4 linked regions of the Homo sapiens genome follow. The protein of the gene in region 2 purifies or fractionates together with the protein of the main gene of each other region. This does not show direct contact. Each region holds a gene or a part of one and is shown on either strand. Other genes may lie near its edges. The genes, in order: LMAN2L, CD1E, ITGA7 and C1QL1.

What was found.
Region 1: the proteins of CD1E (region 2) and LMAN2L purify together in Homo sapiens (affinity purification with mass spectrometry; 2 studies listed by BioGRID and IntAct, with this or other methods). This does not show direct contact.
Region 3: the proteins of CD1E (region 2) and ITGA7 purify together in Homo sapiens (affinity purification with mass spectrometry; 2 studies listed by BioGRID and IntAct, with this or other methods). This does not show direct contact.
Region 4: the proteins of CD1E (region 2) and C1QL1 purify together in Homo sapiens (affinity purification with mass spectrometry; 2 studies listed by BioGRID and IntAct, with this or other methods). This does not show direct contact.

Annotation. Positions count from the first base shown.
Region 1 is NC_000002.12:96,730,051-96,737,073, reverse strand, and holds part of LMAN2L (VIP36-like protein isoform 2 precursor), read left to right. Parts: intron 1-2,547; coding exon 2,548-2,665; intron 2,666-3,472; coding exon 3,473-3,555; intron 3,556-7,023. UniProt on the Homo sapiens protein: May be involved in the regulation of export from the endoplasmic reticulum of a subset of glycoproteins. May function as a regulator of ERGIC-53.
Region 2 is NC_000001.11:158,349,513-158,356,902, reverse strand, and holds the start of CD1E (T-cell surface glycoprotein CD1e, membrane-associated isoform a precursor), read right to left. Parts: upstream 3,010-7,390; 5' UTR 2,915-3,009; coding exon 2,857-2,914; intron 2,527-2,856; coding exon 2,230-2,526; intron 1,604-2,229; coding exon 1,334-1,603; intron 1,077-1,333; coding exon 798-1,076; intron 406-797; coding exon 312-405; intron 176-311; coding exon 7-175; 3' UTR 1-6. UniProt on the Homo sapiens protein: T-cell surface glycoprotein CD1e, soluble binds diacetylated lipids, including phosphatidyl inositides and diacylated sulfoglycolipids, and is required for the presentation of glycolipid antigens on the cell surface. The membrane-associated form is not active.
Region 3 is NC_000012.12:55,704,891-55,712,850, reverse strand, and holds the start of ITGA7 (integrin alpha-7 isoform 2 precursor), read left to right. Parts: upstream 1-4,946; 5' UTR 4,947-5,168; coding exon 5,169-5,374; intron 5,375-7,960. UniProt on the Homo sapiens protein: Integrin alpha-7/beta-1 is the primary laminin receptor on skeletal myoblasts and adult myofibers.
Region 4 is NC_000017.11:44,959,178-44,965,311, forward strand, and holds the end of C1QL1 (C1q-related factor precursor), read right to left. Parts: intron 1,191-6,134; coding exon 1,011-1,190; 3' UTR 516-1,010; downstream 1-515. UniProt on the Homo sapiens protein: May regulate the number of excitatory synapses that are formed on hippocampus neurons. Has no effect on inhibitory synapses.

The sequences.
Region 1 (7,023 bases), on a different chromosome or scaffold from region 2:
TGGGCATGACTCTGGCATCCTTTGATACTTTCTCTGGAATTCTCTTAAACTAAGAACTTACTTTTTTACGTGGCTTTTCTCATTAGTTGTAGATAAGCGAATCTCAGAAAAGAGAACGATTTCTTTTCCCTGTTCAGGAGGGCAAGAGAAATTTCTACATTAGCTATCTGCACAAACTGGCCCCTTAACCTAGATCATAGTGCCGAGCTCATTTTTGGACAGAGTACAGAGCATTGTGTTTTCGTAGCAGAGATAAAGGACAGTTGAAAGACTGGGATTCTCGGTCCAGCTCTGTCACAGTCCTCCTGTGAGCCCTAGGCAGATTATTTAACTTCTTAGTTCTGTTTCTCTATCTGATAAATGAGCTTCAGAATACCTGTTTTACTTGCCCACTGGGGTTGTCGTGAGAATAAAATAGGACAATAGACATGAAAAGACTGTGGCAAGTTAAAATGGTTATAGAAATATGTGTTATGTTATTACACTTCTACAGGTTTGTTGATGGGGCTCTTGTGGGTTACCGGATGATTATGTTCAAGGCTTGATACTCTGCTGCTGTCTTGCTGGCTGTCTGTCTCTACATAACTTGTAGCAGCAGTTCTAGTATAGCCTCTAGTTCTTCCCTTTTTCGACTTCTGATACCTGTATTCGCTGTTATCTGGCTATCACCATGACTATGGGCTTGTTTCTGAGTTATTTGAATAGGATGCATTTGTTTCAGCAGTGGTTCTCAAATTTGGCTATCCATTGGAATCAATGCCTGGGTCTCATCCCCAGAGATTCTGATCTAATTGGAATAGGGTGCAGCTTGGCCATTGGGATTTTTTAAAACTCCGTAGGTGAATCCAGTGTGTGGCAGAATTTCAGAACCACAATTAGACATGGTCCTGAGCAAAACAGTATAGCATTGTGCTGTAGGAGGCCAGGAATCAGTGACAGACACCTCTTGGCTCACTGGGAACTTCTGTGACTCTGCCCTCTTCCCAGGGGCATAATACCTACCTCCTGGCAGCTTCCTGCCCCACTGAATTTCACTCTTTCTCTGAAAGCTATTTTTTTGAAACAGGGTCTCATCACTCTGTCGCCTAGGCTGGAGTGCAGTGGCACTATCACAGCTCACTGCAGCCTGGACCTCCTGGGCTCAAATGATCCTCCACCAAAGCCTCTCAAAATGCTTTGATTACTGGCGTGAACTACTGTGCCTGGCCTTTCTCTGAAATCTTTTTTTTTTTTTTTGAGATGGAGTCTCGCTCTGTCGCCCAGGCTGGAGTGTAGTGGCATGATCTCAGCTCACTGCAAGCTCTGCCTCCTGGGTTCACGCCATTCTCCTGCCTCAGCCTCCTGAGTAGCTAGGACTCCAGGCGCCCACCACCACACCGGCTAATTTTTTGTATTTTTTAGTAGAGACGGGGTTTCACCGTGTTAGCCAGGATGGTCTCGATCTCCTGACCTTGTGATCTGCCCACCTCAGCCTCCCAAAGTGCTGGGATTACAGGCGTGAGCCACCGCGCTGGGCCGTTTCTCTGAAATCGTAATGAAACAGCAGAGAGATAAGAATCCAGAGTGACAAGACAGAGACTGGCTCAATAGAGTAGGAGATTTCAGGCCCCTTGCTCAATGCAGGAGTACCCAATCCCCTTTCATTTTGACTGTGTACTTCTAATATGAACACTGTTGGAAAATATCCCAGAAATAAAGAATGAAAACTGAAAATGATCTAGCAATAGTTGCCCAGAACAGTCTATTTGGAGAGCCTTTGGCTGAACCCAGCTGGTCTGTCTGTTCTTCCTTCACTTCTTTCTTCACAGTAGACTTTTAACCAGAAGCTTCCCTAAATCAACTACCCACTCTGGTTTTTTCTTGAAACCGTTCAACTATTTAAAACACTTAACCATCCACTTGCATCCATCTTCAAGTGCATTTAAGCTTCTTGGCCATGGACGGGAGGGTTTGGGGACTGTAACTTGCTCTTCTTGTGAGAATTCTGGCTTACCCCTCAGCTTGGCAGAGGGCCAGGTCTAGCTAATTAGAGTTGTTTGTAGTATCTGCTAATTATTCCTGGAAACGTTTGCATAACAGCTTAGCTTTTCTTTTTCTACTGTAATAAATTAGGCTTTGACCTTTCTTTAAATCCAGCTTTTCAGAGTCTTTCTGTCTGAGGGGTGATCTTGAGTTGTAAATGAGTATGAATTCAGCCATCTGTACTCTAAAAGCCGAGCTACTTTGCTGGGTGGGTGTAGGATCACAGGAGTGGAGTTTGGTACACTCTTGTCTTTTCCAACTTTGGAGTTCTGTCCTGTTTCTGTTGGGAAATGTTGAAGATAATCGGGAGGTTTATTCATTTTCATATTAAATCTCTAAACAGTTGAATGGTTCAATCCGTTTAATTTTATGACATGAACACATAGCAAGTCTTAGATTTAAGTTTTAACCCTTAGTCTAGTGTTACCTGCATTTGTGTTTTCCAAGTCTGTTGATTGCTGATGTGGGCTTGAGGGGTTTTGCATTTCATGCTCCTCATTGATTCTAATGTCTTTCTCACTTTAGCCATGTTTCCTGAGAGACTGGGAGTTGCAGGTGCACTTCAAAATCCATGGACAAGGAAAGAAGAATCTGCATGGGGATGGCTTGGCAATCTGGTACACAAAGGATCGGATGCAGCCAGGTATTGGGAGCCTGTGTTACTCTTGTGTGGGTGTGACAGCCTGATTTTTCATGTGCCCTCTTTTTGAAAAGGTTCCTTCCCCACAGTGCCAGCTGTTTTCCCTCTCCCTTAATGTATGTGGATGAACACTGGCCCTTCTAGTCTCTAGAACGGGTCTGAGTCCTCATAAGCAGCTGAATTTGACTCATCCTGAGGCAGTTGCTTGCTTGTTACTTCTTTCTGAGTTTCCTTGTGAAACTACCTGGCCTGTTGGCTGGATGAAAGCACTGGCTCTCCTGAACGCTGACGATTGGGTGAGCTGATTTCTTCTGAACATTTACAGTGAATGATCTCAGCACTGCTGAGTCAAGAGAAGAGTTATCTATTTTCCTTGTGTTAGAGCTATTATTGCTCCATGTAGATGGCAGGCTCAACCTGATTTGACCTGATCTCTTTTGCAACAAGAAGGAGAACTAGGGAATTCAGTTCTCTCTTGGGGGCATAGTCTTTACCAATTGTTTGTAAAGCAGAATTCTGTAGGGGCACCTTAGCAACCAGTTTGGATCAGGAAGCTGCCTGAGTGCTAAATAAGGTTGCAGTGGCCTTCTCTCTTTCCCTTGCCTCCAACAACAAACAATTACAGATATTTACTGGGCACTTGTTACAGGCCATGCACTTTGCTGGGTACTTTTAAACATGTGTTTTCTCATCTTGAGAGAGGCTTGGGAGTCATTTGAATTTTACTTTTTCCTCCATCATAGTGATATATTATTCCTTTATCAACTCTTAGCTTTATTTCATTGTTCATCATCTGTTCTCTCTCTCTAGGGCCTGTGTTTGGAAACATGGACAAATTTGTGGGGCTGGGAGTATTTGTAGACACCTACCCCAATGAGGAGAAGCAGCAAGAGGTAATGGCAAGTGTCAGAGCCTAGGTCAGCTACACTGACATCACAGTTCTTTGCCTCAGGAATGTTGTACAGGAGGGAACAAAGGAGATAGAAAGTGAGGGGTTCTTCATCTGTTGAACTTTGAAAGTTAATGTCCTTGTCAGTGTTTTTTTCTAAAGGGACTATTTAGGAGTGCACAGTCTTTTGGGAATAGCTGTCTTGAACAGGGGCTTTTTCTTTAGTGATAATCATGTTCTCTCTTGTGCCTATTAGATAGCCACTAAAATTGAGCATGTTTGGTTGATTGGTGATTTGGCTGCTAGACCAGCACCAGAGCAAGCTGAATTTACGTAACTCAGCCTCCCCTGACTTTTAATCCATCAGTGCTGTGCTCTCTTCTGCAACTTGCACACACTTTTCAGCTTCTTTTTCTTCTTCTTCTTCTCAGACCTGAAGAACAGTTCTCCTCGCCTATAGAAAAGGCTATAATTGGCCAGGTGTGGTGGCTAACACCTGTAAGCCCAGCACTTTGGGAGGCCGAGGTGGGCAGATCACCTGAGGTCAGGAGTTCGAGACCAGCTTTGCCAACATGGTGAAACCCCGTCTCTACTAAATATATAAAAATTAGATGGGTGTGGTGGTGGGTGCCTGTAATCCCACCTACTCGGGAGGCTGAGGCAAGAGAATCACACCATTGCACTCCCCCCTGGGCAGCAGAGTGAGACTCTTGTCTCAAAAAAAAAAAAAAGAAAGAAAGAAAAGGCTATAACGAGAAGGAAACTGATGAAAGCCCAGCATTTTGTTGGAACCTAGTATCTGGCTGTTGGCAGGCCTTTTTGTTACCTGACCTAAGAGTTTTTTAGTGCTTTCTTTTTTTTTTTTAATTTTTTTTTTTTGAGACAGAGTCTCACTCTGTCGCCCAGGCTGGAGTGCAGTGGCGCGATCTCGGCTCACTGCAACCTCTGCCTCCCAGGTTCAAGCTATTCTTCTGCCTCAGCCTCCCGCGTAGCTGGGACTACAGGCGCATGCCACCACACCCAGCTAACTTTTGTATTTTTAGTAGAGACGGGGTTTCACCATGTTGGTCAGGATGGTCTCGAACCCCTGACCTCGTGATCCGCCTGTCTCGGCCTCCCAAAGTGCTGGGATTACAGGCGTGAGTCACCATGCCCGGCTATTGCTTTCTTATATTGACAGTGGGTTTGTACTCTCTCTATGTCCTACGGCACTGCCATCAGATGGTGGGAAATTATGACAGGTTGTTGCTGGGTATCCTGTAGCTAAGTACCTAGCGAGGAAATCAGGATTAGAAATAGAGGCAAAGGTCACATTATTTTTTTCCTCAAAGGTTTATTATGAAAATTTTCAAACTTAAAAAACATTAGAAGGCCAGGCATGGTGGCTCACGCCTGTAATCCCAGCACTTTGGGAGGCCGAGGTGGGCAGATTACTTGAGGTTAGCAGTTTGAGACCAGCCTGGCCAACATTATGAAACCCTGTCTCCACTAAAAATACAAAAATTAGTATTTTTATTAGTATTAGTGTTAACCTGTAGTCCCAGCTACTTGGGAGGCTGAGGTGGGAGAGTCACTTGAACCTGGGAGGTGGAGGTTGCAGTGAGCTGAGACCACGCCATTGCACTGCAGCCTGTAATCCCAGCTACTCAGGTTGCTGAGTCAGGAGAATGGCTTGAACCCAGGAGGCGGAGGTTGCAGTGAGCTGAGATCACACCACTGCACTCCAGCCTGGGCAACAGAGCAAGACTGTCACCAAAATAAACAAAAAAAATTAGAAGAATAGAGAATGATCATTGTATCTGTGATGCTTAGATTCAACAGCTGTTAACATTTCCCACAGAACTCACTTTTTATTTTTTATTTTTTTTATTTTTTGAGATGGAGTCTCGCTCGTCTCCAGGCTGGAGTGCAGTGGTGCAATCTCGGCTCACTGCAACCTACATACACCTCCTGGGTTCAAGCCATTCTCCTGCCTCAGCCTCCTGAGTAGCTGGGATTATAGGCACACGCCACCACGCCCAGCTAATTTTTGTATTTTTAGAGACAAGGTTTCACCATGTTGGCCAGGATGGTCTCCATCTCCTGACCTCAGGTGATTCCTCCACCCTGGCCTCCCAAAGTGGTGGGGTTACAGGTATGAGCCACTGTGCCCAGCGAGCTCACTTTAAAGGTGGTGGAATGTGAGACCTGAGTTAGGAGAATAACCTTTTGTTGTGGATCAGTTACAGCTGCTTCTCTGTGTTCCTTCTGGGCTGTTCTTCATTCCACATACATTAACCACTTTCTAGGTGCCAGGCCCTGGGAATTAGTGAGCAAGATAACATGGTCCTTGTACTCAGTAGCACTGAGAATGCTGATGGGGGAACTCTGGGGCACTATGGGAGGACACAGCAGGAGCTTCTAACCTGAAGTGGGGCAGTAGTGTTGGTGGTAGTGGGGAAGGCTTCTTCCAGGAAGTGCCTTTTAGGTTGAGGTCTGCAGAGTAAGGAACCCGTGTCCCATGCAGAGGGAAAAAAGCCGAGGTCCTAAGGTTAAGAGAGGGGATGATGAGGCTGGGTGCAGTGGCTCATGCCTGTAATCCCAGCACTTTGGGAGGCCAAGGCGGGTGGATCACGAGGTCAGGAGACCGAGACTATCCTGGCCAACATGGCGAAACCCCGTCTCTACTAAAAATACAAAAATTAGTCAGGTGTGGTGGCATGCTTCTGTAGTCCCAGCTACTCAGGAGGCTGAGGCAGGAGAATCGCTTGAACCTGGAAGGTGGAGGTTGCAGTGTGAGCTGAGATCACGCCACTGCACTCCAGCCTGGGCGACAGAGTGAAACTCCATCTCAAAAAAAAGAGAGAGAGAGGGGATAATGAGTGTGTGGAAATAAAGTAGAATCAGAGACAGATGAGGCTAGAATGAAAAGCAGGGCCAGTAGTCTTGTTATGTTGCACAGTTCCTAGGGCTGCTGTTCACCTTGCATTCTACAATATTAACACTGTAGCCTCGGCATGTTAACTAGCCGCTGAGACTGACTGGCATCTGCTTGGGTGGTTGGTGGCTGAACTGTTTAGATGAGAGCCAGAGCAGACTGAATGTATGTGACTCATGCTCACCATATACCACTTGGGGCCAAGTTCTGAAGGATTGTGTTCCTGTTGAGGAGTCTGGACTTGATTCTGAAGGGGTAGGTACATTAAAGGATTTTATTGAAGAGAGGATCATGACTGGATTTGTAGTCATGCTGAGGAAATAGTGGTAGTTAGAAATGGATCTGAATAAGAGTTATCAGCTTTAGGGCCTGACAAGAGTTTTAAACTTGTCTCTCTGTTTCTTCCAGAAACAAATTGTTCAAACTCTGTTAGCTTCCATTTCACCATGAGATAGTAGTAATTCTGGTTTGAGAAAGTAGAAATTCTGACTTGGGTTTATTTTGTAAGGATTTTGTAGATGTTAATTAAAAAAAATTTATTTTAGATGGTAAAAA
Region 2 (7,390 bases):
CAAATGTCACCAGAGTTGGTTTAGGCGTGTCTTCCACTTCTTCAATACTCTGTTTTTGATCCACGATACTTGTGCCAAGCAGAACTGATGTCTTGAATTCTTGGTGTCCTGAGTGTTGGCTCCCATGAGAAAGACAGGGCTGGGTGTGTGGGGAGAAAGAATGTTCTTATTTGAACTGTGGGAAAAGAGGAGGATATTAATCTCAAAGAAAGGAAATAAAGGGGAAAGGCAGAGAAAAAAAAAAAGAAGATAGAGGAAAAAGGAATGAATTGATTACAGGCTGAAGAAACAAAGAACAAGAAAAAGCTCACCTCTGTTTTTTTAACCGTGAGTCAACTACAACCAATATGACCAGGGTAACTATCACAGTCAAACAGATCAGGATGAGAAAGATGGAATATCCACCTGGTTGGGGATAGAATAAGAATACCAACCCTAAAATACTCTATTCCACCAAGCTGAGATTTCCCATTTCACAAGGGTGGGACCTTCCTAGAATTTTCATCTGGGTTTTCCAAAGCCCTCATTTCAATTCCTCCTGATCCTTTGTCTGTGATCTCCTCCCAACCCTCTCCCACTAAATCACTAGTTCCTCCTCCTTTTTCTGTTAGTATGTCTAATTCTCTACTTCCATTTTCTTAAAATTTAACTACTGTCATACTCTATCCTTCTTTATTTTGATTGTCCCAGTTTTACCCTTCTTGTACCTAGCATTCCTACCCATTTCCTCAGCCCCACACTCAAAAGCCCCAGGGCTATTTTCATTATTTCCCAGCAGAGCCTCAGCTGTTTCTCACCCCAATGGATGATTAGATCATGGCCCCCTAGACTGCTGTGTTTCACCCGACAGGACAGGCCAGCTGCCTCCCCAGCCGCCACATCCAGGGTTGCTCGGAGATACCATGTCTCGTCAGCATTAGGCAGGACGTCCCCTCGCTGAGTGCCCCGCTGCTCCTGCTCACCCCGCATCCACATCACCCACACGGGCTTTGGGTAGAATCCTGAGACATGGCACACAAGCTGCAGACGGCCAGGGCCAGGACTGGGGCCACAGGACAGCCAGGCCTCTGGCTTCACTAGGAAGAAGAAGATAGAAAAAAAATGGAATTTTGAAGGGCACCCCAGGCCAGAGCTCAGAGACTCAGGTGCCTTTGTAATAATACTAAGAGTGATTTAGTAATCACTTCTTTCTCTTGTCTAAGAAACAGTCCTGAACCCACACATCTCATTCTCTAGTCTCTCACTATGTCTTTCAAAATGATGATGAGAGGCAAATTCAAATATGAGAGTTATAGTACTAGGAACAAGAGGGGAGAGAGAGAGTTGGGCTCACCTTTCCGTTTCAGTTCTGACTCCCCTGCTTCCATGAGCCCCGCTAGAAATCGAGGGCAGGTGTGACCAAGAAGGCTTTGCAGTATTTCCTTAATATCTAGGTAGCGATTGAGCACTTTACAGATGTTCTGGGCCCGGATCCCTGCTCCTGGAGATGGCTCCCAGGAAATTCCTTGGAAACTCAGGAAATCTGACCCTTGATATGCCATATTTAAGAAGATTTGTGGGGCATTCATTCTACAGCCAGCTAATATCTGGATCTCGAAGGGGTCTGAGAGTGGACAGGGAAGAGAGATCATTATGGAAAGAATGACAAGGAAGAAAAACAAACAATTTAGACAGTAAAGAGATTCAAGGGAAGAAAAATTTGCTGGGAAATCATATGGAGACTAGAGTTTACTGGCAAAGGGGAAGAAAATTTGTGGGAAGAAAATTTGAAGATAATAAAGATACTTTGAAATAACTAATGGGAAAGTGGTAGATGGGAAGGCTATCAGGAAGATAGGAGATTGGTCATAAATAATTCACGTGAAAGTGGTTAGGTACAGGCCAGTCCATGTCAACACTCAGGCAAAGGATAAAGAAGGGCAGAAAGAGGGTTGAGAAAGGCTGAGTCTGAGGGCAGGAATGAGGGGCAGAAGATCCAGAGGAGACAATCATTCCAAAGAGCCAGACATGAAGCTATATTCATGTTGAGATATGTACATGCAGGCCCTTTTGTGTATATGGTGGAGTGTGGGTGGTGGTGAAGGGTGAAGCAGAGGAGGGAGTGGGAGTCAGAGAGTGGGGAACAAGGTTAGTAAGGTTAAATGATGGTCAGAGTCTATATACTATCTTCCACTTTGGAAAATAGTTGGTGTTCCCAGGCAAATTATCAGCTTAGAGCAACGAACTTACATTCAAGCTGAAATTGACCAGCAGAAGCTTGCACTATCTGGATAAAACTATGGAAGTATAACTGGAACAGTGACTGTAAGTTTTTCAGCTCCTGCTTGCTGAAGTTTCCATGGGACCAGGGCTTCAGAAAGCGGATGGTGCCCAAGACAGTGTCCCAGCCATGAGTCTGCAGGTCACCCAGCCATCCTGAGCCCTCACTGTGTGCCCAGCTGTGGTTGGCAAAGGAGGAAGTTTGGAGCATGCGGAAGGACAGCTGCTCCTCTGCTGCTAGATGATAGGATTGTAGAGCCTGGGGAGCTGAGAGAGAGGGAAATGACAAGTAGAGAGAATGTAAAGGGATGGGAAAAGTGATGCCAAAGGGAAAAAAGGAACCCAGAGATGAGAGACAGTTAGGTAGCTTGTACATACTCCAATACCCTTTTCCTGTGGGGCCAGCTTCCTTTCTCCAAAATCAGAGACAAAAACTGAGACTGAGAGCAAGAATTCTCTGCCTGGAACTAGCCTGAAAGGCATATTCCAAGGGCATCCTAGAAGAGTACTGCTCCCTTCCCCCAGGACCTCCCCAGAGCTTCCTCTCAGCCCTCTGGTGCCCTACCATAGGTATCTTTCCACCTGCACTCTTCTTACCTGCTGTATTTTCCCCAGGACAGCAGAGACCCTCGAAGAGGAGGAACAGGAGCAGCATTGAAGCTCTGTTAAAGGAGGGATTCCTTGGCAGGACACCTGCCCTAATAATTCAGATATCAGTACCCCTCTCCACACCCTCTTGCACTCTCGTCTGACTTCCCTTGCTGTACAGACAGACAAACCTCTCCCTCTGCTGACTTCCCTGTCAGAGAAGCCACACTGCCTCGCTTTGCTGCAGCCTCCCACGGGGTTTTTCATTTCCCCTCTGCCTCTCTCACTGTCTGGCTCCAGATTTTCTCCCTGCTCTTGTGTACATCCTCCCAACCTCCCTAATTGCACTAACTGCTGGAAAACGAGTCCTGGCTTAAAACAAAGTCTGTGGTCTGGCTAGAAGATGGAGTAGCTTTTGGCCTTGTAGAAATCAAATCCATACTTGGCTTGTCAATAATCTAATCTGTGAGAAGTGATGGTAGTCACTCAGTGGTGCCTAGTGACCTATCCACCAGTCTCCCACTTCTACCTCTCTGTGATCCTCTCCTCCGCCTGTATCTCTTCACTCTGCTCTTGATCATGATCAGAAGACACTCAGCATCCTGGATGTAGCTGCATAATAAGCAGGCAACCCTCCATAATCCAACTCTCTGTGCTGCTGAAAAAGGAGCAGCAATGGCAATGCAGATTATCAGAAAATCTAAAGAAAGCTCCTTTTTTTCAGTTTCCCCAGTCAAGCCAACTGTCACTGTTAAAGTGGTCCATGAGTGGGCTTGACCTGGAAGTGGTGAGCTAGAGGGCAGGTAGATTTCACCCATGTTTTACAGGTGGCTCTGGAGGAAATACATAGGGGACTTGGATCCCCATCTCTACCCAAACGAAGAAAGCATGTCTGGAAGTCTGTGGGCCAGCTTTGCCCTGGGTATGAAGAAAGACTGAGGGCAGGCATGAAGCTCCTCATTAGTTCATGGCCTGAGAGCATTGGAGTCCCCTTGCTTGCGTTCGGTTAGAGAGCAGTTTGGGTGGACACAGGGAAGTACCTTTAGAGGACTGAAGTGTTCACTGGAGAATTAATTGAGTCTTTATTTTTGTTTCTTTTTCATTGATATTTGTTGTGACACTCTGAAGGCAGTTGAAATAACATTCCTTTGTTTGGTTTTTATATATTTGTTCAACTGACATTTATTCAGAGCCCACCTATGACCAAAAACAATTGCCAGGCCCTAAGATATCAGAGATAGACATCTTTGGGAAAAAATAAAACAAAATTCAACCCCAAACCTCTACTTTTCTTATACAGTAAATTTACTGAACGGTGGTCAGAATTATTGAAAAAGGTCCAAACCTAGTTTCATCTTATTATCATTTCTAAATTCTAAGTTAAAAGAAAGATAAAAAGTTTCCTTGTTTCCTGAGTAGAATATCTACATTTATTTTCAATACTCTTTCTGTGCTGGAGAGGTGCTGGAGAGGATGTGGAGAAATAGGAACACTTTTACACTGTTGGTGGGACTGTAAACTAGTTCAACCATTGTGGAAGTCAGGGTGGCGATTCCTCAGGGATCTAGAACTAGAAATACCATTTGACCCAGCCATCCCATTACTGGGTATATACACAAAGGATTATAAATCATGTTGCTATAAAGACACATGCACACGTATGTTTATTGTGGCACTATTCACAATAACAAAGACTTGGAACCAACCCAAATGTCCAACAATGATAGACTGGATTAAGAAAATGTGGCACATATACACCATGAAATACTATGCAGCCATAAAAAATGATGAGTTCATGTCCTTTGTAGGGACATGGATGAAGCTGGAAACCATCATTCTCAGCAAACTATCACAAGGACAAAAAACCAAACACCGCATGTTCTCACTCATAGGTGGGAATTGAACAATGAGAACACATGGACACAGGAAGAGGAACATCACACACCGGGGCCTGTTGTGGGGTGGGGGGAGGGGGGAGGGATAGCATTAAGAGATATACCTAATGTAAATGACGAGTTAATGGGTGCAGCACACCAACACGACACATGTATACATATGTAACAAACCTTCACGTTGTGCACATGTACCCTAGAACTTAAAGTATAATAATAAAAAATAAATAAATAAATAAAAATAATTAAAAAAAGAAAAAAAAACTGCAAACAAAAAAACAAAAGAAAAAGGTCCAAACCTAGTTTCATCTTATTATCATTTCTAAATTCTAAGGTTAAAGAAAGATTAAAAAAAGTTTCCTTGTTTCCTGAGTAGAATGTCTACATTTATTTTCAATACTCTTTCTTTTCTACAAATACATTCAAAGCTATAAGTTGCTATGTAAATCTATCTATAAATCGCTATGTAAATCCAAAATTGGTTTCATAATAAAATTATGAACAGTAAACAAAGATAAATATTCAAGAGAATATATAATAACCTACAAAAACAATAATACATAATAAAAAGATTGGAATGACCTATGCCAAACATCAATACTACAAGTAACTGTATTCCTTAGAATTTTTGTTTTGTTTTGTTTTTTCCTGAGACGGAGTCTTGCTGTCTTGCTCTGTTGCCCAGGCTGCAGTGCAGCCACAGGATCTCGGCTCATTGCAACCCCCGAATCCCTGGTTCAAACGACTCTCCTGCCTCAGCCTCCTGAGCAGCTGGGATTACAGGCAAGAGCCACCATGACCATCTATTTTTTGTATTTTTAGTAGAGACAGGGTTTCTTCATGTTGACCAAGACGGTCTCGATCTCCTGACCTCGTGATCCACCCGCCTCGGCCTCCCAAAGTGCTGAGATTACAGGCGTGAGCAACCGTGCCCCGGCCATTAGAATTTTTGAATCAGGCCAGGCACGGTGGCTCACACCCGTAATCCCAGCACTTTGGGAAGCCAAGGCAGGCGAATTCGAGACCAGCCTTGCCAACATGGCGAAACCCTGTCTCTACCAAAAAAAGTAAAAATTAGCCAGGTGCCATGATGTGTGCCTGTAATTCCAGCTACTCAGGAGGCTGAGGCAGGAGAATTGCTTGAGCCTAGGAGGTGGAGATTGCAGGGAACTGAGATTGTGCCACTGTACTACATCCTGGGCAGGAGAGTGTGACTCTGTTTCAAAAAAAAAAAAAAGAGGGAGAATTTTAAAATCATTTGCAAAGTAAAATAAAGCAAAGTATATTTAGAGAATAAAACAATGTTGTTATTCCACAAAAAATTGCACTTTTATGTAAGTAAAGATAACCACACCCTAGTTTTTAATTTTGAGGCTACAGAACTCACAGATAACTGCAAATTACTGAGCAAAGTAGAAATAATGTCTGACAGCAACCCCATAATCATTAACAAAATAATGAAATTCCTTCTAAATTAAAATTATCCAGAAGATAAATTCCAAAGAAAAAATATATATTAATTTTAATTTTTGTAACATTATATGGTACAATTATTTCCTTCCTGCTTTACAAAATTCCATCAGTGGGCCAGGCACAGTGGCTCACTCCTGTAATCCCAGCACTTTGGGAGGCCGAGGCAGGCAGATCAGGAGGTCAGGAGATCGAGACCATCCTGGCTAACACGGTGAAACCCCTCTCTACTAAAAATACAAAAAAATTAGCAGGGCGTGGTGGCACGTGCCTATGGTCCCAGCTATTCGAGAAGCTGAGGCAAGAGAATCGCTTGAACCTGGGAGGCAGAGGTTGCAGTGAGCCAAGATTGTGCCACTGCACTCCAGCCTGGGCAACAGAGAAAGACTCCGTCTCAAAAAAAAAAAAAAAAAAAATATTCCATCAGTGCCTAACCACATTTTTTACTAAAAATACTTAGTGTCTGTGGCCAGAGGTCTCTTTTAAAAAGAAATTCCCCCTCTTATGTTTTCCTGAGGCTGCCCCAGTCACATTCGCAGATCCCCTTTTGCCAAAACCAGAAAATTCTCTCAAAACATATTATAAGATGTGCCTTTGGACAACTTAATCTTTCTATGTAAGAAATTTATGGGAGATAACTCATTAAAATTGATTTAAAATAAAATTTTTGAGTACATTTGTACAAATGTAAGAAAATGTTCCATCTGCTAATTTTTTTTCAAAGAATTTAAATACGAGTTTTATTCTTTTGGCTTATTTTCAGGAAAGATTGCAATTTCTACATACTTATTTTCTTGTTTGTGTATACTTACATTTCTTTAACATTTATTCAAATATATTTTTCAGCTTTAGTGAGGTACAACCAACAAATAAAAATTGAGTATAAAAAAGTATTTATTGCCACTGAGCTGTACATTTTAAAATGGTGAAGATGATAAATTATATATTTATATTCTACCTTAATTTTTTTTAAATTGGGTATACTTAAGGTGCACAACATGATGTTATGATATATGTATATACTGTGAAGTAATCGCCACAGTCAAGTTATTACCATATCCATCACTTCACATAGTTACATTTTTTCTTTTTTTTTTCTTTTTGAGACGGATTCTCACTCTGTCACCCAGGCTGGAGTGCAGTGGCATTGAGAGGTGACAGCGTGCTGGCAGTCCTCACAG
Region 3 (7,960 bases), on a different chromosome or scaffold from region 2:
TCCTTTGCCCTAGAGCTGAGCAGAGGACATGGGGTATCTGTATCTAGTGTCCCCATCTGATCTCTCTAGGGTTATCCTCCATCTGTTCTTTTTCTGGGCCTTTATTGTTCACTGTCTAACCTTAGTTTCTGCTGCAGTTGAAGCTCAGCTTCACTTGTCCTTGGTAGAGATGGACACAAGTCGCATACATATCTATCTGGAGAATGACTCTTGAAATTTGAAGTCTCTTTCTGCTCACCTCTCCTTACGATTTCCTACTCAGATTATTTTCCCTTGGACTGAATGAATGCAACTCCACACTCCTTTCTTCACTCATTTCCCTCTTCTTTTGAGGTCTCTTTCAGAGTTAGCTTTAATTAGCAAGCTCCAAACTGACTGGCTGGGCCAAACAGGGCTGGAAGCTGCTGAGTTGTTAGGGGTTGGATGAGGGCTGAGGGAGGACACAGAGTGAGTAGACAAGGCTTCACATACTGGGAGATCTGGCTGGGCTTCAAGAGAGGGGGTTGGTGGTGGTGTGGCTAAGTTCCAAATGTTGGCCTGAAGCCAGTGCTCAAAGAAAGGGGGCCCTTGAGACAGTCCAAATGGCTCCCTTTGGTAAGTGACCTCCCAGTCCTTCTCAAGTGTTAAGGGTTTCTTTTGGATCGTCAAAGACCGGAGCGGTCAAGCTGTTTCCCCACTGAATTCCCTCAATCACATTTATGTTCTTTTCCTCCCAGCCACTCCCATGGTTCAAGCTTTGACTACAACCAGAATTCAGAGGCAGGCAGAAGGATTCCAGTGCTGGAGAGGTGAGTGAAGTAAAAAAGTTCTCATGGTGTGCATGTTGGGACGGAAAAGCCTGACCTTGGGACATAAGCTCCAAGGCTCTGTTGCCAGATGAGGTGGAGGGAGAAGTTAGCCCTGAAGTGTGTGTTCTGGAAGTGTTTGCTTGTAAGCTAGAGACAACAGTTGCAAAAAGTGTGATTTGAGGGAGCTGAAAAATACTGATCTCAAAGTGGGGAAGAAGATGTTGAAAAGGGAAGGAGCTGGAGAAAGCCTCAGCTTCCACTCATACAAAAGCTAAAGGGCTAAAATCTTGGCTGGATCTGGACATTTCTCAACGTCTAAAATTTTGGAAATTTTTATAAAGATTATTAATCTTTCATTTTTACATTTAATTTATTTAAAAAGTTCAGTTTCTCAGTCATACTAGCCACATTTCTTTTTCTTTTTCTTTTTTTTTGAGACAGAGTCTCACTCTGTTGCCCAGGCTGAAGTACAGTGTATTAATCTATTCCATGGAGTGGAGTGGATAATCTATTCCATGGATTATCATTTTACTTTGTTAGTGGTATCCTTAGAAGCACAAAATTTTTAAATTTTTTTTTTTTTTTGAGGCAGAGTCTCACTGTGTCCCCCAGGCTGGAGTGCAGTGGTGCTATCTCTGCTCACTGCAGGCTCCGCCTTCTGGGTTCAAGCGATTCTTGTGCCTCAGCCTCCTGAGTAGCTGGGATTACAGGTGTGTACCACCACGCCCAGCTGATTTTTGTATTTTTAGTAGAGATGGGTTTTTGTCATATTGGCCAGGCTGGTCTCAAACTCCTGACCTCAAGTGATCCACCTCCCTCCCTCCCAAAGTGCTGGGATTACCATGTCTGGCTTGGAAATTATTTTGAAATAATTATAGATCAGAGGAAGTTGTAAAAATAGCACATGAAGTCTTGTGTACCTTTCACTCAGTTTCCCCTAATGGTGACATCTTATGTAACTGTAGCATAAAATCAAAACCAAAAAGTTGATATTGGTACAGTATTGTTAACTGGCCTGCAGACCTCACTCAGTTTTCACCATTTTTTACATGCATTTATTTGTTTGTTTGTAGTTCTGTGCAGTTTTATATCTTGTATAGATTTGGATAATCACCACCACAATCAAGATACAAAACCCATCACCACAAAGGAACCCCCTTGTGCTATTCCTTTATGTTTGTCCCCACCCCCCTCCATCCTTGTCCCCTGGCAGCCAGTAATCTGGTCTTCATTTCTATAGTTTTGTCATTTTGAGAATGGTATGCGAGTGGAATAATACAGTTTCAGCATTTTTTGTTTGGAGACAGGGTCTCACTCTATCACCCAGGCTGGAGTGCAGTGGCAAGATCATGGCTCACTGCAGCCTTCACCTCCTGGGCTCAAGTGACACTCCCGCCTAGCCTCCTGAGTAGCTGGGACCACAGATTTGGCTAACTTTTCTATTTTTTGTAGAGATGGGGGTCTCCCTATGTTGCCCAGGCTGGTCTCCAACTCCTGGGCTCAAGTGATCCTCCTGCCTTGGCCTCTCAAAGTGCTGGGATTGCAGGCATGAGCCACTGTGCCCAGCTCAGCATTAATTTTTAATTTAACTAATTCCTAAGCTCTTGACTGAAATACAAGAAGTTCTCTAACAGTTTATTTATTTTAATATTGAGCTTACCGCATTCTCTGGATCCTTCTAGTTTCTTTTTTTTTTCTTTTTTTCTGATGTGGAGTCTCTGTCACCCAGGCTGGAGTGCAGTGGTGCCATCTCAGCTCACTGCAACCTCCGTCTCCTGGGTTTAAGTGATTCTTGTGCCTCAGTCTCTGGAGTAGCTGGGATTACAGGTACCCGCCACCACACCCGGCTAATTTTTGTATTTTTAGTAGAGACAGGGTTTCACCGTGTTGGTCCGGCTGGTCTTGAACTTCTGATCTCAGGTGATCCGCCTGCTTCGGCCTCCCAAAGTGCTGGGATTATAGGCGTGAGCCACCGCGCCCGGCCCCGTCTAGTTTCTTAATTTCCCTCTTCACCTACGATATTATCTTCCACTCCAACATTCTGGTCTCATTTCTCCTTGAGAGAAATCTACATGTCTAAATTTACTAGGCTGGTCTAGCACGCTCTTGTGTGTTCCCCTCCCTCCTTTGCCCCTCTATTTATAGCCAGGCTAATTTTGGGTGGCCTCTCTCTCTCTTCTTTCCTGATCTTTCCTCCTGTGGTGGTGAGGTGACTTCTCAAATATTTGGAGAGAGGAGGTCAGAAGCAGATTCTTGGCATCTGATTTCAGCCCTGGATCACAGAAGCCAGTGGAGTGGGAATGGAGACAGGCAGAAGCTGCAGGTGCAGATAGGAGGCAGCTTGGGCTCTAAAGGCATTTTGAGCTGGGTCGGGGGCGGGGGGACCTGGGCAGGGAGTCAGTAGTCCCAGTTCTGTCCTAATTTTGCAATTCTGCATTCCCATGTCAGCTCTTCTCTACTGTCTGGGGCTCTGAGATATTAAAAAGGATGGGGAGGGCATGGTGAAAGTAGAATCCTGGTGCCAGCCCTGCTGACAGCATATGTATTTCCTTATAGTACCTGTTTAGAGATGTGTTAGTGCTCTGGAGGGGATAGCCACAGGTGTAGTATTGGAAAACAGAGGGCCAGACTTCCAAATGTCTGTTAACTTATCCAAGGCAAAGACTGTCCCAGGGCAGCAGAGTAAGAACCCACTTTTTTTTTGTTTTCAAAGAAGTATAATCCTGAACAATGAAGTAGGAAAGACAGAACACAGGAAGAGGAAGGAGGTAGGACACTTATTGGAACTTTTAAGAAAGGGAAAGAGAAGAAAGAATCGTAAGAATATGATAGTGTTTGAAGGGCAGAGACAACACTAGAAACATTGAGAAATACTCTGAGAAAGATTCCAAGTGTGGCAGAGACAAGAATGATGACAAAATAGAATTTGGGATGAGACAAAATCAGATAGTGAGAGAGAGAAGGGAAGATGGACAGATGTATATTCACAAGACCAACACCAGTAAGCAAGGGGAGTAGGAAGGGGAAGTGGGAGCATTCGAGGTTCCCATTATGCCAAATTATTTCCTGTCTCTCCTTCTGGCCCCATTTCTGTATCGGAGTTATAAATAGCAGAGAGTTGGAAAGTGTCCCCCCACCCCCTTGCCTCTGTCCCAGCCTGAGGGAAAGGGAGAGGAAGAGGGACAGGCCAATGGGTCCCTGTGGAGATCCCATCTCAGCCCCACCCAGGTCCTGCTGAGCCAGTCCAGGACTCTGCCCCCTCCCATCCCCTTTCATGGATAGGAAATGTGCAGTCCTGGGACGGGTCTGGTAGCTGGGGACACCCTTTACATCCCTCTGCCTCTTGGGTCCAGTCTCTTTCATCTTTGCCTTCTTTGACACCCACTCCCCTCCCCACTGCTTAATTTCCTCTTCCTGTAATCATCCCCAGTCGTTTTCTTTTCTCCCTTCATTCCATCCCTTGTCAATTAATCTCTTGCCCTTCTTTCTTCCTCTCTATTCCTTTCCTTTTTCCATTTCTCCATTTGCTCCCCGTATCTCCCGAGTTTCTCTCTCTCTTCTTGCCTCTTTTTCTCTGTTCCCTTGAATCCTGACGATGTGGCTAGCACTGCTGTGGTCATTGCCGGGCTGGGGGCGGGGGATGGGATAGGATGGGGGAGGGCAGCGGTCTGATCCCAACAGCAGAAAGAGTGCTCTATGTGACCATGGGGGAACAGGGAGCACTAAGATGCCACGCTGCACCCAGGCCCAGGACGGCTCCCCTTTCATTTCCTCTCTATCTGCACATCTCTCTTCCCAGGTTGTCTTTTAGCGTCTTCCCAACTTCTCATCTCTTACCCTCCTTCCTCTGTTTCAGCCCCTCTCTTTCTATCTGTACTTCTCTCCCTCCGCATTCCAAGGCGCCGCCTCCACCACTCCCGGGGTGGGGATGGGGTTGGGGGAGAAGGGGAGGAGAGCGCCGCGCAGGGGCGGAGCCGGAGACGGTGCTGGGCTTGGGGGGCGTGGTGGTGGGGGGTCAGCAAGGCTAGTTTCCATCCCAGCCACCAGCCTGGGCATCCCCTTGGAGACGGGCTTGGGTCTCCACCTGCCGCGGGAGCGAGGGGCGGGGCCGGAGGCGGGGCCTGAGTGGCGTCCCCGGGAGAGGAGGCGGGAGCCGGAGTGGGCGCCGGAGCTGCGGCTGCTGTAGTTGTCCTAGCCGGTGCTGGGGCGGCGGGGTGGCGGAGCGGCGGGCGGGCGGGAGGGCTGGCGGGGCGAACGTCTGGGAGACGTCTGAAAGACCAACGAGACTTTGGAGACCAGAGACGCGCCTGGGGGGACCTGGGGCTTGGGGCGTGCGAGATTTCCCTTGCATTCGCTGGGAGCTCGCGCAGGGATCGTCCCATGGCCGGGGCTCGGAGCCGCGACCCTTGGGGGGCCTCCGGGATTTGCTACCTTTTTGGCTCCCTGCTCGTCGAACTGCTCTTCTCACGGGCTGTCGCCTTCAATCTGGACGTGATGGGTGCCTTGCGCAAGGAGGGCGAGCCAGGCAGCCTCTTCGGCTTCTCTGTGGCCCTGCACCGGCAGTTGCAGCCCCGACCCCAGAGCTGGTGAGTCACCGCACCCGCCCAGAGTCGCCATGCCCGAGCCACAGATCGTCCCCCTCCCCACTCTGTGGGCCTCCTCATTTCTCTGTTTTCTAGCCCCACCAAGACCTAGACTGCCCACAGACATCCCACATCCCAACCTGGAGCCTTGCCTCATCTGGCTTGCGTCTGAAGCTGCACTTCCCGGCCCTGAGACCAGTATTTTGCTTTAGGGATGAGTTGGAAAGCAAGGTTCTTGTCTTGGCAGCGAACCATCTCCTTCTTCTGGGCCTTTCCCCCAACTTGCATCCTTGATCCAGCCCCAGGGCCTCTGGCTCCCCTGCTTCTTCCAAGGGCTGAATTCCCCAAGGGAGGGAGACTGTCTGTCTCTGCTTAGAATGGGAGGAGATGGAAAGGACATAGAAGTTGAGGGTGCCATGAGAGGGATGCATGCAGGGCAGACTCCAGAAATAACTTCCTGCTAGAGCATTGCCATGGATGGAATGAGGGCAGCAGGGCACTGGAAGGCCAGGAGAGAGCTTCCACTTCTGTGGCTTAAGACCACGGGAAGATTGGGAGAGGATCTGCAGGTCTGCCAACCTGCAGTAGGTGGCTTGGTGATAGAGAGTGGCAGCAAACTGAACCCTCAAAGTACTAGTAGCAGTAGTAGTAGCCGCAGCAGCTGTAGCAGTGAGAGAGATCCAGGAAGGATGCTGGCCAGGCTGCTCCCCTTCCTCCTCCTTAGCAAATTTCCAACTCCAGGAATCTCAGCAGCTGGGAAGGGCCAGGAGGAGTAAGGGGTGGAGGACAATTCTAATTTTTTCTAATCAGTTCAGGACCCATGGGAGATGGATATACTTTTGTGAGGGGCCTGTGACTGGTCATGTTGCCTGTATCCTTGGCTCTTGCTACATGTCTGATTGTAAAAAGGGAGGCCAGAGGTGAAGAAAGCTTCTCACCTGCTCCTGCTAGGGGGCTTTTCTCTCTTCAACCAGTGCCTAAGCCACATTAAGTATCCATTACTGGGATCAATGCTGTCCACTGGGACTGTCTTCTGCCTCTACTGTCGGTCTGGGGGCAGGGGGCAGGGACAAGAGCTCATTTCTCCTCACTTGCTTGGGGAGTGGGGGCCTAGCTCTAATCTTTCTTCTTCCATTATCCCTATCATCTGGTAGCAGGGTCGGTGGTCCCCAAAACTTTGGGAGAGATAGAAAGCAACGGACTTCATCTCCTCTTCTGTTTACCATCTGCTTCCTCATTCACCTTTGCTCCCTCCCTCCCTTCCTCCCTCCTTCTCCATCTGTCAGAGTTCGAGGACTGGAGGCCTTTTTAGGACATGCTGAACTCTCTAAGCTATTTCCAGGCAAATTCTAGGTTATTTTTAATAGCTTGGTCTCTTGTCATTTCCCCCTCCTCTCTGAAGGTGGCCCCTGGTTCCGTCTCCCAGAGCCAAGCTGGGGCCTTTCCCAGAGGGCCTGACTGCCTCACCCTGCTTTTGCTCCAGCAGGGGGTGCTCTGCTGCTGGGGGGCGGGGGGTATGTGAGAGGCCAGGCACCTGCTCAGTCCCTAGCTTTTGAGTTGCAGGTGGCCTGCCTTAGCACTCACTGATGAAAAAAACTTCTTGCCTGTTTTGATGTCTTTTAGTCTAGCTCTGGGATGAGACTTTAAGGTCTAACCTTTGCTGTGTGGTTCCAGCCTCATTTACTTCCCTCAACTGTAAAAAGGATATAAACATAGTATTACTACATAGGGTTGTTGTGCAGATTAAGAGTTCTTAATATATATAAAATGCTTAGAATAGTGCATAGCCCGCAGTGAGTGCTGTGAAGTGTTAGTAGTATTGCTATTCTTGTATTGTGATTCACAGAGCGCCTTACAGAGATTCTGGATCCAAAGGCTTGGCTAGAGGGCCTCCCTGGCTGAGCCAGCCTTCCAGGCCAAGCATCCTCCCCAGAGGGCCACCCAGATTGAGAGGGGCCAAAGAGGGGCTGGACTTGGGCTGGGGCCCTGGAGTGTGTGGAGAATCGAGAAGTGCAGTGGTCGTGGGCTACTCCTTTGTCTTCACTTAGCTGAGCTCCCAGGGGGTCCCTCTGCCCCCCAGCTGCCAACACTTTTTTTTTTTTTTTTTTGCTTTTCTCTCTGCAGTGGCTACACTGTGGCTGTCCAGAAGACTGGGGTGGTTAGGGCGTATGGCATGAAGCCAGGAAGGAGTGTGTGTGGCTGGACCAGAGGTGGAGGGACTAGAGAGGATGCTGCTGGGTGCTCTTGTTCCACTAAGGATCGATTGGTCTCTTCTCCACCAAGAGCGGACTGGGCATATCTATGCACTCAGCTTCTTTCTTCCACATGGGCCCCTCCCCTCCTCCCTACTTTTGGCCTCCAGAGGAGATGTGAACATAGAACAAGGATAACTTATCTGGGTGCTTAGCTATGCACTGACCAGCTGTGACACTGGGTATCTCTATGAGTCCACAAAATGTGTGTGTTCAGTAAACACATTCTGACACTCCCTATGGGGCAAGCACAAAGATGAAAAGACAGCCCCGACACTCAGAGAGATGGCCACTTCTATGTTTGGAGGCTGGGGGTACTGCTGACTTGCCTGAAGGT
Region 4 (6,134 bases), on a different chromosome or scaffold from region 2:
CCTGTAATCCCAGCACTTTGGGAGGCTGAGGCAGGCGGATCATGAGGTCAGGAGATTGAGACCAGCCTGGCCAACATGGTGAAACCCCATCTCTACTAAAAATACAAAAATTAGCTGGGCGTGGTGGTGTGCGCCTGTATTCCCAGCTACTCGGGAGGCTGAGGCAGGAGAATCGCTTGAACCCGGGAGGCGGAGGTTGCAGGGAGCCGAGATCTTGCCATTGCACTCCAGCCTGGCAACAGAGCGAGACTCCGTCTAAAAAAAAAAAAAAAAAAAAAAGGAATGTGTCCACCATGGAAGATGATGAAGTAACTGGGCTGCTTCCCATCCCAGCTGCCCAGGCCCACTTGGGTTGTGGTGGGCTTTAGGCCCTTTGGCAACTTCTTCTTGGAGTAGCTCTGGCTCTGGCACCTGGTTTCCCCTAGAAACTTCCACCAGACCCCTTCCTAATCTGGAGGAGGGCACGGTCCACCGTCGCCTCCCGCAGCCCTCCCCAGGGCACAGACTGAAACCCCTGCGGGGTGAAAATGTTTTTATTATAACTTTGGTCAGACGGGGCACAGCCGGGCGGGGGCTCTGAGGGTGCTGGGAAGCTATCCAGCCCCCAACTCCCCCCTCCCCCGGGCGCGCCACCCCGGAGGGAGCGGAGGGCAGCTCATCTCAGAGCGCAGGAAGCAAACCCGCCGCCGCGACCTCTCCCCAGGCTGGGGTGGGCTGGCAGGCGGAGGTGGGCAGTAAACAGTCCTATTGTACAAATATATAGCGCGGGCTGGGCGGGGGCGGTCAACCCCGGTTCCCTGGCACGGGGACAGGGCGCGCTGGGCCCGGCTCTGCAGCGAGCCGGTGGGAGGGCCTAGCTGTGGCCCAGGCGGTGTTGAGCACGGGCCGGGGGCGTCATAGCCGGGGAGGGCCGGGCAGCGAGCGGGTGGGCGAGGGGCGAGTCATCGTCTGCCCCGCCCGGAGGGGACCCCGGCGGGTGAGGGACGTGGGTGGAGGGAGACGTGGGGAGCTCAGTCGGAGTAGATGATGAAGCCAGAGAACGTGCTGTATTTGTTGCTGTTGCCGCCGTGTGCTTTGCCTCCATCCAGCTTGATGAAGACCTCGTCGCCGGCGTCCAGGTGCAGGATCACGCTGTTGCTGGCGTAGTCGTAGTTCTGGTCCGCGTCCTGGGCAATAGCACTGGCCCGCACCTGCGGGTGGGGGACACGGGAGGGAGGGCGAGAGGAGAGAGAGGATGAGAAGGGAGGGAGGTGAGGCAGTCCCGTGGGGGAGGATCAGCAGACCCAGAAACCTGGCCTCCAGCCTCGCCTCATCCCTGCCACGCTCCCCCTCCCCCGCCCCCTTCCAATCATACAGGACTTGTTTCAGGAAAGGGGCAGAGAGGATCCCTGGATTTCTAGGGCAGGTCTGATCTGGGCCTGAATTGGGAGTCAAGGCAGAGTCTTCCTCCTTAACTCTTATAGGGCTTTCCCTCCAGCTGGCTGAGAACCTCAATACCTCCAGGAAGCCTGGAAGCCTGTCCTTGCAAAGAGGAATTCTCTGGACCTCCAGGGAATGGAGGGCCTTCCCTACTCTCATCATTCCTTCCTCTCTGCTTTCATAATGATGCCATCGTTTCAGCCACACCCGCTGGATCTTATGTCAGTGGATGGACACAAGGGCACACCTTGGCCCCACAGGTCAGGCAGCTGGACCAATGCCAGGCTGCCAGTCAGCAACCACCCTGGAACCAGGGCCAGGTCTTTGGTCTGAAGTGCATTCCAGAGTCTCTCCTGCTGCAGCAGTGAGACAGAAGGCCTGGTAATGCTTTCCCCTCCCAGAGTTTAGAAGGGGCCTGGGTGCCAGCCTCCATGGAGCTGTAGCTATGTACCTGTCACTACCCACCCAAAGAGGATTGTAGCTCCTCCTGTCTCACCTCAGGGTGGTAGAAAGGAACTGGGTGGGAAGAAGGGAATCCAGGCCTTACTTCCCTCTGGGATTCTCAGTCTGATGTGACATCCTTGCTGGTCCCTGCCTTGATGGGGGATGGGGAGGGACAGGCAGGATAATGGGTCAAGGGAGCACCAGCATTTGGGCTTGGAGCCTGCCGTCACTTTTGGGGGCTCTGACTATAATCATAAGAGATTGTGTGGTGGCTGCATACGGTGGCTCATGCCTGTGATCCCAGCACTTTGGGAGGCCCAGGCAGGTGGATCATTTGAGGTCAGGAGTTCGAGAACAGCCTGGCCAATATGGTGAGACCCCCATCTCTACTAAAAATACAAAAATTAGCTAGGCATAGTGGCACGCCTGTAATCCCAGCTCCTGGGGAGGCTGAGGCAGGAGAATCACTTGAACCTGGGAAATGGAGGCTGCAGTGAGCCGAGATCATGCCACTGCGCTCCAGCCTGGGCGACATAGTGAGACTCAGTCTCAAAAAAAAAAAAAGGCCAGGCGCGGTGGCTCACGCCTGTAATCCCAGCACTTTGGGAGGCCGAGGCGGGTGGATCATGAGGTCAGGAGATCGAGACCATCCTGGCTAACAAGGTGAAACCCCGTCTCTACTAAAAATACAAAAAATTAGCCGGGCGCGGTGGCGGGCGCCTGTAGTCCCAGCTACTGGGGAGGCTGAGGCAGGAGAATGGCGTGAACCCGGGAAGCGGAGCTTGCAGTGAGCCGAGATTGCGCCACTGCAGTCCGCAGTCCGGCCTGGGCGACAGAGCGAGACTCCGTCTCAAAAAAAAAAAAAAAAAAAGAGAGAGAGAGAGAGAGAGAGAGATTGTGTGGTGGTGAACGAATGATCTACAGACATTCAGCTAACAGGTATGGAAACATAAGTCCTGAGTTTGAGGATCGGGGCCTCTCCAGGGTATCCTGGGTAGAGACATGGAAGAGAAGCGCCCTCTCCAGGACTGTGGCTTGTGGTGTGGGGAGGCTGCACTGAGTGGAGTTCTCTCAGCCAGGTTTCTCCACGGCCCCTCTCTATCCTGTCCCTTCACTGAAGGCAGCTTACCATCCCAACTCCCAGGGCTGAAGTCTGGGTAGAACCAAGCCAAATTAGGGGAGGGGCCCATCCTCTCTCCTGGGCTGGAGGCAGCACTGCAGGTCAGCTGTGCCAGAGCTGCTGACTCAGCCGCGATGCTGCAATGAAGAGGACCCGACATATTTGCATGAGGGCCTCCCTTTAAAGCCCTTCTCCAGCCCCTTCTTTTCCCTCAACCTCTTCTTCCCAACCTGAGAAGAAACTCTTTGTGTGCTTAGCTGGGAAAACTGGTCTAGTTAAAGGTGGGAGGGAATAAATGAAGGGGGAGATGCTGTCTGCCAAGGAGCTCAGTTTCTCTGTCTAGAAAATGGATGAGAAGACTTTGCCTCACCACTGCCACCTCTGTAAAAGTCTTTTGATGATAAAGAAAAAAAAACATTAGATCTTGATGGGGCTTTGAGTTATTAGGGAAGAGCTGAAAGCAAACAGCCAACTTCTGTATTGTTCCCTGAGCCCTAATCCTGGTAATATTTATTATTACACATGCATTTCATTATCTTTGCTAATAAATTACTACTAATAACAATTATTTTTATTGCCCAGATTAATTTAGCCTTAACTCATTAAAACAGTGTGCTCCTTAATAGCCAAATCCATTGGAACAGAGTCATCTGTCATCAGGAATCTCCTGGTGATGTGACTGCATCAGAACTGTTATGCTTATGTTTATTATTTATTCATCACCATGATTGTTGCCGTAATTATCCTAATTATCCATGGAGGCAGAGAGAATTTATGCCCTTCCATCCTTAGATGGTGGGGGATCCAAGAATGGAACCCAGGGGTCCCAATTCTCTGCCTGACTGGAGACAGTTGAGGCCTGCAGCTCCTCCTGGGGTCCAAGGGGAAGTGTGGGGAAATGAGGTTGCCAAGGAAGCAGGAAAGCAGGTTTGGGCCTTGTTATGAGGGAGCGCTGTATAATCAGCTCCTCAAGGGCTGCCAGGAGGGGAAACTGAGGCAATGGTCTGACCAAGGGAACTGGGTGAGAGGGCATCCAGGAAACACGTTCCTGCCCTCAGATCAATGCTGGGGTCTTGGGTGTACAGATGTGGCTCCCATAGGGGAGCCAGCCTGGCCCATGGGGGACACTTGCATTTTCATACATACATTAACTGCATTCCCACTGTGCCAGGCACTGTGCTCTGTGTTGTGAAAGGTATTAGGGGCCAGAAAGGATAGCCAGGGGGCCATCTGCCACCACCAGGGGAGAGGCTGATCTCCTTAGGTCTTTTTTCTTTTTTGAGACAGAGTCTTGCTCTGTCACCCAGGATGGAGTGCAGTGGTGCGATCTTGGCTCACTGCAACTTCCACTTCCCAGGTTCAAGTGATTCTCCTACCTCAGCCTCCCGAGTAACTGGAATTACAGGCACCCACCACCACACCCGGCTATGTTTTTTTGTATTTTTAGTAGAGACAGGGTTTCACCATGTTAGACAGGCTGGTCTCGAACTCCTGACCTCTGGTGATCCGCCCGCCTCAGCCTCCCAAAGTGCTGGGATTACAGGCGTGAGCCACTGTGCACAGCCTTCTTAGGTCTTTATACCACCACCTTCAATTTATATATGCCAGCACCTCTCGCCACACTCAGATTCTGTTGTCAAACCCCTGGCCCATTGGTGATACTCACCTCCCCACAGCCTCCTACCCTGGATAAGCAGCACCCTGACCACAGGCCCTGGCACATCCTCACAAAGCCCCCTGCCCAGTTTATTAATTTTGTGTCCTCTCCAACCCACCTGAACTGTGGATCTTGGAGGCAGCTGCAGGCAACTCACCACACCCAGGGCCCCACTGCCAACCCAGAGTCCTTTCCCCAGGCTCCTTGCATCCTAATGGCCAGGACTTGGTGCCATCAGGGGTGCTGATGCAAGGCTACCCCTAAGGACTGGGGCCAGTGGGCCTCAGATAAGGACAGAGGGAGCCTCAGTGCCAGGCATGAAGGTGGTGCTCCCCATCCCGAACTTGCCCGGAGAGGAGGCAGAGCCCAGATTCAGCTCTGCCTCCCTAAAGAAATTCTGGAAGCCTCTCTACAGGCAGGAAGCCAGGAAGGAAAAGCGCAGTGCTCAGGGTGGCCCCTGGTTCTGAAGTCACAAGAGATACAAGCTTCTCTCTTTTGTTCCCATACATTGTCTGGTCCTGCCATTTTTTTCTCTGCTTATTTAAATGTCCTTGTCCACCTCTGAGCTGGCTTTCCCCTACACTTGACCTTTTATATTCTCCCTTGTGGTATCTCCTCACTTTGCAGACCAAGGTTCACCATCTTCTCCCCCTGCATCAGGTTGGTCTGCACCAGGGTAGGCCCTACTGAAGCACTCCCTCCCAGCCAACACATTTGGGGACCAAAGTCATCAGCTGGGCTCCCAGCCCACCTTTAACACAGTATTCGCTGGGGCGTGTGGTTGTATGTTATGAATGTTCCCCCTGCATAGGCCATGAGGTCTTGGAGGGCAAGTGGACTGAACTCCTACAAAGCCTCAAATCTGGCTCCTAGTAGGGGCTCAAAACTAACAAGTGGGATGGCTAGTGAGATCAAATGAGTCTCTTGGGCAATTTGGAAGAAGTCATAAAGGACATGGGAGAGGGGGCTACGGGCCCCACTATTTCTCCTGGTTTTCTTTTCTTTTCGTTTTTATCTTTTCTTTTCTTTTCTTTTTTTTTTGAGACAGAGTCTCACTCTGTTGCCCAGGCTAGAGTACAGTGGCGAGATCTCACCTCATTGCAACCTCTGCCTCCTGGGTTCAAGTTATTCTCTTGCCTCAGCCTCCTGACTAACTGGGATTACAGGTATGCACCATCACGCCCAGCTAATGTTTGTATTTTTTTTTTTTTTTGAGACGGAGTCTCGCTCTGTCACCCAGGCTGTAGTGCAGTGGCGCGATCTCAGCTCACTGCAAGCTCCGCCTCCCGGGTTCACGCCATTCTCCCGCCTTAGCCTCCCAAGTAGCTGGGACTACAGGTGCCTGCCACCACGCCCAGCTAATTTTTTGTATTTTTAGTAGAGATGGGGTTTCACCGTGTTAGCCAGGATGGTCTTGATCTCCTGACCTCATGATCCACTTGCCTCGGCCTCCCAAAGTGCTGGGATTACAGGCGTGAGCCACCGTGCCTGGCC